Regions from separate parts of the Homo sapiens genome. Here all the other regions are linked to region 3. Evidence: fine-mapped QTL for protein levels in blood plasma. A gene starts in region 3. Each other region holds a variant in brackets. All regions are shown on one strand. Distances are between the middles of the regions.

Region 1 (2,758 bases), 21 kb after region 3:
GTCCTTTTTTTTTTTTTGAGACAGGATCTCAGTCTGTCACCCAGGCTGGAGTACAGTGGCCTGATCGCGGCTCACTGCAACTTCCGCCTCCTGGGTTCAAACGTTTCTCCTGCCTCAGCCTCTCCAGTAGCTGGGATTACAGGTGCACGCCACCACACCCAGCTCATTTTTGTATTTTTAATAGAGACAGGTTTCACCATGTTGGCCAGGCTGGTCTCGAACTCCTGACCTCAAATGATCCACCCACCTTGGCCTCCCAAAGTGCTGGGCTTACAGGTGTGAGCCATCACGCCCAACCCTGTGGTCCATTTTTAATTGAACTCTAGGCCTTTTGACCTGGCTCTAGGTTTCCCTCTGATGTCTATCTTTTTTAAGCATGGAAATTTTACTTGACTCCAGTATCATGCTGAGATCGAGAAGTTATGTTTTTTGGTATCTTGTTATACAGCATTGTCTACATGAACATGAACCTGAGAACAGTAGATCTACCAGTAAGACGTATTTGATCACCTGTTAATATTACAGTAGAGATGATGCCGAGCCATGGTGAGAAGAGGTCTCAAGGTTGCTCTTACCTCTTTCTACTCCAGGGTTTGGCCCCTCCGCAGAGCACGTGTAGAACTTAATGGAAGAAATGGGCTCCTGGCCGCCCTAACTCATGAGACTGATTTGTGCTAGAAAACGAATTTGATTATTAAGAAATACAGCTGCCAAGTAATTACCATTGGTATTGCTCAGAAAGGACTTTGTCCCTTCTCCCCACCCCATACCCCCCAAGTACGGAAACCTATTGGGAAATGAACATGAAATCCGATGGTTGCTTGGCATGAACGTAGGAAACTGCAGCCAGTAAGATGCCTTCATGAGGCTTCCATCTGGGGCTCGTTGATGGTCTGTGTTCCCCAGCCCCAGTCAGGGTTAAAGATACGGCCTGGATTTCTGAAGCTCTCTTTTCAGTTCTTTGATGAAATATATGTGAAATTATGCAACATATAATGAATATTCAGAATGTTTTCAGTATTTTAAAAAATTACACTGGTATTTACATCTTAACAACAAAGATTATGTGAGGGAAAGGATTTAAGGTCTAGTAGGTATTAATCTTGCTCATAAAATATTAATTATTCATTATATTTATAAAGTATAAAGCTCT[G/A]TGTAAGACAGTGTGCTGGGCCTTGAGAATGTAATGGTAATCAAAACATTCTCTTTACCATCAGGAAACCCACACTGTAATGGGAGAGACAGTAAATAAAAATGGCACTGTCATATATAACTAGAGTTTGGTAAGTGTGACAGTTGAAATGGGAAGGGGGCTGCAAGACTGTTTAGCAAGGGACCCTGCCTGTATCTCTCTCAGTCCTTCCCAGCAGCACTGCAGGCAAGCAGGTCAGGTGTCCTCAGCTCTCATTTTACAGGTAAAATCCATACTCAGTAAACTAGAGTAGCCTTCCCAGGGATCACTTCGGGAGGAGTGAAAGTGGAGACTGCAGCCAAGTTTTCTCTCTTACTCCTACTTCACTTCACATACACAGCAAAGCAATAAATACTTCATGGCATTTTTGTTGCTGTTTCATGAAGGCTGTCTCCTTATTGCCTGCAGATTAATCAGTTCTGCATTACATAGTTACTGACTTAAAATACATTTTAGTGTCTTACGCTTATAATCCCAGCACTTTGGGAGGCTGAGGCAGGAGGATCACTTGAGGCCAGGAGTTCAAGACTGGCCTGGGCAAGATAGTGAGACCCCTTCTCTACAAAAAATTTAAAAACAAAAATTAGTTGGGCATGGTGGTACGTGCCTGTAGTCCCAGCTACTTAGGAGGCTGAGGCAAGAGGGTTGCTTGAGTCCAGGTGTTCAAGGCAGTAGTGAGCCAGAATTGCACCACTGCACTCCAGGCTGGGCAGCAGAGCAAGACCCTGTCTCTTAAAAAAAAAAAAAAAAAATATATATATATATATATATATATTACATACACACACACACATACATACACAATTTAGTTTTGTAGAAATTTTCACAACTAGGAATATGTAAATCTCATAAAGCAATCTGTTCTATTTCCATTTCACTCAAAAAACAAATTCCAAATACCTCTGAAAGGTTTTCAAGCTCACAATGTGTTTATATTAGGAACCAGGTGTACTTTTATTCCCAGATCAATCAACCATGTATTTGTTCCTTTAGCAAATATGTAGTGGGTGCCTGCTATGGACCAGACACTGTTCTAGGTACTGAAGATCCAGGAGTGAACAAAGTAGACAAAATACCTCACCCCGTGGCACTTACCTGGCAGTGGGATATAGGGAGAGACAGTTACATAAAACGTATAGTGTGTCAAGTTGTGAAATAAGGTTATATATTCAGGTACTGCTTGCCACAGACATATGGTGTACCTGACGCCATGCAGATAGATATTGATCTAGATACAGTCTAGATGCTAAAGTAGAGAAAGGCGATTGGTGCAGCTGTTCCACTGTGATGGAAATGTGCAGGGTGAGTGAATAGTCCCTAGACGTGGAGATATTCCTGACTGCTTTTACGATACTGTCAGCATCCTATGATTGTCTTGATAATTTCTGCCTTTGGGAAACTGTTTCAGTTTTTAGGTAACTGAGCTGCATGTATCAGTTGAGAAACGGCAGGCTGGCATAATGGAAAAAGGACAGCCCAGGCTTGGGGGTCAGACGTAGGCGGATTCAAATCCTAACTGCTGCTTCTCGGTTATGTGAACTTGGGCCAGTTCCTCAGAGTACCTCA
Region 2 (2,758 bases), 13 kb before region 3:
CGTTTATTCGATATATACTAACGTTTCCCTTTTCAAAGTATTCTATTTAGAGTTGGAAAAAACAGCATAGTATTTAAGTACTGTATTTTTCACTTCTCATCTAAGAGACCCACCAATGACCTATTAGTGTTTTATTTTTTGGTGTAGGTAACTATGTTGGTAGGAATATTTCAGTAACAAATATATACAAGGTAACTCACTGCGTTCAGATTTGTGCTTCCCTCCCTTCGACCAAAACCTGAGGACCTATTCTGTGCTAGGGCCTGAAAATACAGAAATAAAGGAACTACAGCCTTGATGCCAAGGCTCTCGTAAGCAGATTATAATATGATCTGCAGTGACAAATATTTGTGTCACCGATGAAAACATGAGCGGGAACCTCACCCAACACCATGTGACAAATACCCGAAATGGACTTCCTATTTCAACTACTTTAGAGAAACATGGTGCCCTCAGGATCACTAGGTTACTCTGGAACACTCAGCAGAAGCCAGTCATCTGTCTCTAATACTGTTAGAAATGGTCCCGAGCCCAGAATAACATGAATTGCCCCCACCCTCACTTATCCACGCAGTCCCTCGCCAGTGGCTAATGCACCACGTTTACAGACCACGTCCCCAAGCGCCAGCGCGGACGGCGGTGCGGACAGGGAGCTGTATTGACCTGCGTTCTGCGTTTCAGAGCCCGGACCGCCCTGGGACCCCTGTGGCCCTCAAGTTCCCAAGTGACCTCGTCCGGGGAGGGGACGTCTCGCTCTGACCCCGCCCTGGACGCACCCACCCACGACGCCCCCGCCCACTTCCGGCGCGCCCCCTCTTCGCCCCGCCCACTCCCCCGGCTCCGCCTAGTGACGTCTTTGCCCCGCGCCGCGCCGTCCCACCCATCTCCCTGGCCTCCGGTCCCAACTTCGCTTCTCTGCTGACCCTCTCTCGTCGCCGCTGCCGCCGCCGCAGCTGCCAAAATGTGAGTGACGCTACGCGACGCGGGCGGCTTCGGGCCCCGCAGGCGGCAGCTCGCGCTGGGACCGCCATACTGCCCAGTTGCCGCCGGCCGCCACTCGGACGCAGGCCGGGGCTGCGCGGGGATCCCGAGGCCTGGGGGTGGGCGGTGGCCCTTGGGTCGCGGGCTGCAGACGGGCCGGGCGGGTCCCGCGGCCATCGGGCGGACGCGGAAGGGGCAAGGGCGGGGCGGCGAGACGCTTCCCGGAGGAAGTGAGCTGCCCGCCCGCAGCCCGCTCCTCGCCCCTTCCCTTTCTAGTCCCCGACGTCCCTGAGAGGAATGGGGACGACAGCCCTGGTTCGGGAGCGCCCGCTCTCGGCCCGGTGCTGCGCTGGGCCCCAGAAGTTGCGAAAGAAAGGACCTCGGCCCTGTCCTGAGCCCCTGTGGGCCGAAGAGCTCCTTGCCTAGCTAGGGGCATCTGCACTGGAAAGATCACTTAACCGTGGGCCTTCGCTCTCTTAAGCGAAAGCACGTTGCAAACCCCTGCTTCCAGTGGTAAGACTCAGAGAATGCTAATGGTTAAGAATCACAAGGACTCCCTCTTCCACCTCCATTCTGCTCATTGCTCACCGTCGGAGGAAGCCCCGGGTTTCTTCCAGGAGCTGGGGACCCCCCTCGAATGTTCCTGCTGAGGCTGCTGTGCCAATAGATCACAGTGGTTAAGATCTAGAGCCAAGGTAC[A/T]CAGGACCTGATCTAAAAACAAGCTGTCCTGCAGCCAGCTGTGTTGACTCTCTAAACCTCACTTTACTCATTTGTAAAATAGGAGTAATATTCCCCTCAGAGAGTTATGAGGGTTAAAGGAGGAAAAGCATGGAAAGAGTCTAGCGCCACGGCATGGTCCTTACTTATCTACCAGATACTAAACTCCGTGAGGACGGTGATGAGATCTGTTGTAGCCCTGGTCATTGACACATGACAGATGTAAAGTGACTGTTCAAACAGCCCATCAGACTGTTGTATACCAAGGCACATGCTAGGTGCTATCTAGGATACAGAGAAGAGAGTAAGAAGACCCAGGAACCTGTGATCTATTCGAGGAGGCGGGACTTTATACCTGAAAAACCAAAGTGATACTTTCCAAGTAATGGAGCCAATAATGACTTCAGAGTCAGAGTGGTTAAGAAAGATCTGCATGGGGAGAAATAAAGCCTTTGATGAAGATTTTAAAAGATGAGTACCTTCCTGGGCCGGGCGCGGTGGCTCATGCCTGTAATCCCAGCACTTTGGGAGGCCGAGGTGGACGGATCACTTGAGGTCAGGAGTTCGAGACCAGCTTGACCAACATGGTGAAACCCCGTCTCTACTAAAAAATACAAAATTAGCCGGGCGTGGTGGCACATGCCTGTAATCCCAGCTGCTTGGGAGACTGAGGCAAGAGAATTGCTTGGACCCAGGAAGCGGAGGTTACAGTGAGCCGAGATCGCGCCATTGCACTCCAGCCCGGGCAACAGGAGCGAAACTCCGTCTCTCAAAAGAGGGGGAAAAAGAAAGAGTACCTTCCTAAAAGAGGAGGCATTTCTTCAACACACCTTTCCACTCACACCACCCACTCCCTGCATCCCAGTGTTCCTGACTCTGTTTCTGTAAATTAATCTATTTTTCCATATTGGAAAAAGGGCATTCTGTAACTGTTTGTAACTATGAAAACAGTTCCTTCCACAATGAAAAGATCAGGAAAGTACTGAGTACATTCAAGCAGATGTGTGCCTTAGAACAAGTTTCAAAAAAGGACAGTAGAGCTTACCTATCGTGGGATCAG
Region 3 (2,722 bases):
ACCGCTGCCGGCAGCCCGCCCCACCCTGGGCTCCTCCCCACACCCGCTCGGGCAGCCGGGAGCCACCTACAAACTCCAGGACTCGACCCCAGAGCGCTGGCCTGAGCCGCCCCTGCTCGCCCCCAGTCCCCGCCTCTCCCTCCCTCTAATGCCCCCGCCCTCGACACCGTCGCCCCCCCGCCCCTGCCTCTCGCTCCCCACGTCTCTCGGCACCCCCGCTCCCATCCGCCCCCCCGTCCCCGCCTCTCGCCCCCATCCGTCCCCATTTCCAGCCTCCCCCTGACCCCGACTCAAGCCCCCCGACTCCGCCTCTCGCCCCTCTCTGCCCCCGCCTCTCACTCCCCTCTCCTTCCCCGCCCGCCTCTCACGTGGAGGTTGGGCCGGACCCGCCCCGCCCCACAGAGCCCGGGTCCCGCCCCCACGTGGCTGGCAGCTTCCTGGCCCTATCATTTCTGCGCTGGCTTCAGCGGCTCCGCCCCGGCGCCGTGCCAGGGGGCCGGACACTCCAGTCGCGCGGCACAGGCCTGAGGCCGCTGAGGGCCACCCCGTCCCCTGCCCGCCCGCCGGCCTGCTGGGATTGGCCGAGCGCCGGCCTCCGCCCGAGCCCGCGCGTTATGTAACGCGCCCCGGGGGCCCCGCCCCCTCGCCCTGGCTTATATAACCCGGGCGCACCGGCTCGCGCCCCGCCCCAGGGCCAATGGAGGCCTGCGGAGTCGGCCCCGACGACCAATCGCACGGCCCGGGGGCGGGACCGGTCACGCGGCGGCAGGGGGCGCGGCGCCGGCTGCTGACCGGCACGCGGCGAGCCTCGAGACTGCGCGAGGGCGGCCCCGGGGGCGAGCGGCTGTGCGCGGGGCCAAGGGCGGGGGCAGCAGGTGAGTGCGCGGCCGGGCGGGAGTTCTGGGCGGCCGGGCGGGAGTTCTGGGCACTCGCGCGCGGCAGAGGAGCCCCGCGAGCCCTGCCCTCGGTACTGGGGGCCCCCGGAGCGTGGCGCTTCCGAGCCACCCGCCTCCCCGGGCCCCATCCCTCGGCGCGCGGGAAAGTTGGGGCAGGGGTGAGGACCGCGCGGTCGGGGCGCCCCAGCCAGCCGGGCCGCTGGCGTCGGACTGTCTGTTCCATTTGTCCCTTGTCACCCTTGTCTCCTCCCCCTAGGCCGGAGTCCTGAAAGTCGAGCGAGCTCCGGGTTTTGAAAATGTTGGAGGGAAAAGCTCCTCGGAGATGAGCGTGACCCCCTGGCTCGTGGTGGCCGCCTGTTCTCACTAACGCCATGGCGGGGACCGGAGTGAGAAACCGGTGTCTGTCACTGACTGCAAAGTGAGCGAGAAGCAGGCTGCGGGCCGTCCCAGCACGACGTGGAGCCCCGCGGAGACCTCGAGATGCCCCGCGGGGAAGCTCCTGGCCCCGGGAGACGGGGGGCTAAGGACGAGGCCCTGGGCGAAGAATCGGGGGAGCGGTGGAGCCCCGAGTTCCATCTGCAGAGGAAATTGGCGGACAGCAGCCACAGGTGACGCGCTGGCTTCAGGCCGAGGGCCCCATGCGTTCGTTGTCCTTCCCTGGAGCAGGGAAAGGGGGACCTAAATCTTTTTATTCTTTTGTTTTCAAGCCCAGGGGAAAGTGTAAAGGGGAGACTCGGGCAATGTAGGATGAAGTGATCCGTGACACTGAAGAAAATTACCGAAGAGTATCAGGAGGGAAAAGTGGTTACAAAAGTTAGCTGAGTTGGGGCTCAAGTGGATTAAGGGAAAGTAAGTGGAGAATGTTTGTCATTCACCAGTTGCTTTGCCTCGAGTTCCCCACCTAGAGGAAGAGGGGTCACCACCCTGTGGACTGATGCCGGTAGAGCACTTAGAAACTTACCTGGCTTGCAGTTTGTGTTCCCTAAGCCGCAAGATGCTGTTGTCTTCAGAGGATGAAGTTGTAATTTTTTTTTATCTTCCAGTGAACAGCAAGATCGAAACAGAGTTTCTGAAGAACTTATCATGGTTGTCCAAGAAATGAAAAAATACTTCCCCTCGGAGAGACGCAATAAACCAAGCACTCTAGATGCCCTCAACTATGCTCTCCGCTGTGTCCACAGCGTTCAAGGTAAACAAGCCGGAGAGAAATTTCATCCTACGAATGCACCAGGACTCATACAAGCAGCCAGAGGAGTGGTCAGTGGGGTCTCAGTCAGACAAATAATTTGAGCTTTTTCTGGTGCTTTGTGGAAGATGAGCAAATCTACACCGATTCCATTCGTGTCTTAATTGTTCACATGTGAAAGACCAGGAAAACTTTATCTGTATAATAGTGTATAATACCTATGCAATGTTTTGCTCATGTGTTGCAAGAGAGTAGAGTTTAGCATAAGCACATTTTGAAGGCTGACCTTTTAAAGAAATATTGTCTTCTATGGAAGTTATGGGAAAAAAATGCATTCCACGAAATAGTTACCTTTACATGCCGTACACATACTTTCAAAATGCAGTAATGAGGCTGGGCGCGGTGCCTCACGCCTGTAATCCCAGCACTTTGGGAGGCCGAGGCGGGCAGATCACGAGGTCAGGAGATCGAGACCATCCTGGCTAATACGGTGAAACCCCGTCTCTACTAAAAATACAAAAAATTAGCCGGGTGTGGTGGCGGGCGCCTGTAGTCCAGCTATTCGGGAGGCTGAGACAGGAGAACGGCGTGAACCCGGGAGGCGGAGCTTGCAGTGAGCCGAGATCACGCCACTGCACTC

Direction of the effects. Positions count from the first base shown, and alleles are read on the strand shown. Strength reflects both the effect of a copy and how common the allele is.
For the plasma level of the protein whose gene starts at base 790 in region 3, G is the low allele of the variant in region 1 and A is the other (weak association).
For the plasma level of the protein whose gene starts at base 790 in region 3, T is the high allele of the variant in region 2 and A is the other (weak association).

What was found. A credible set is the group of variants that fine-mapping cannot tell apart. PIP is the posterior inclusion probability: the model's chance that the variant is causal. Protein levels are from antibody-based Olink assays in UK Biobank. Linkage for the fine-mapping came from a reference panel and not from the study's own genotypes, which makes the PIPs less certain.
Region 1: its variant is the best candidate, but not a certain one, in a credible set for the plasma level of the PER3 protein (UK Biobank, PIP 0.53).
Region 2: its variant is the best candidate, but not a certain one, in a credible set for the plasma level of the PER3 protein (UK Biobank, PIP 0.55).

The regions. Positions count from the first base shown.
Region 1 is chr1:7,804,870-7,807,627 of GRCh38, forward strand. All of the region lies in intron 10 of PER3 (period circadian regulator 3), which reads left to right. Among named protein-coding and RNA genes, the nearest start is that of PER3, 22 kb to the left of the region's middle. The variant G/A (reference allele first, on the strand shown) is at 1,154.
Region 2 is chr1:7,770,423-7,773,180 of GRCh38, forward strand. It overlaps VAMP3 (vesicle associated membrane protein 3), which reads left to right and starts at 874. Exons shown (of 5, transcript NM_004781.4): 1 at 874-963. The coding sequence starts at 962. RefSeq lists enhancers at 78-774, 518-567 and silencers at 801-1,043, 1,008-1,237. The variant A/T (reference allele first, on the strand shown) is at 1,681.
Region 3 is chr1:7,783,502-7,786,223 of GRCh38, forward strand. It overlaps PER3 (period circadian regulator 3), which reads left to right and starts at 790. Exons shown (of 22, transcript NM_001377275.1): 1 at 790-875; 2 at 1,153-1,504; 3 at 1,940-2,085. The coding sequence starts at 1,377. RefSeq lists a silencer at 256-865.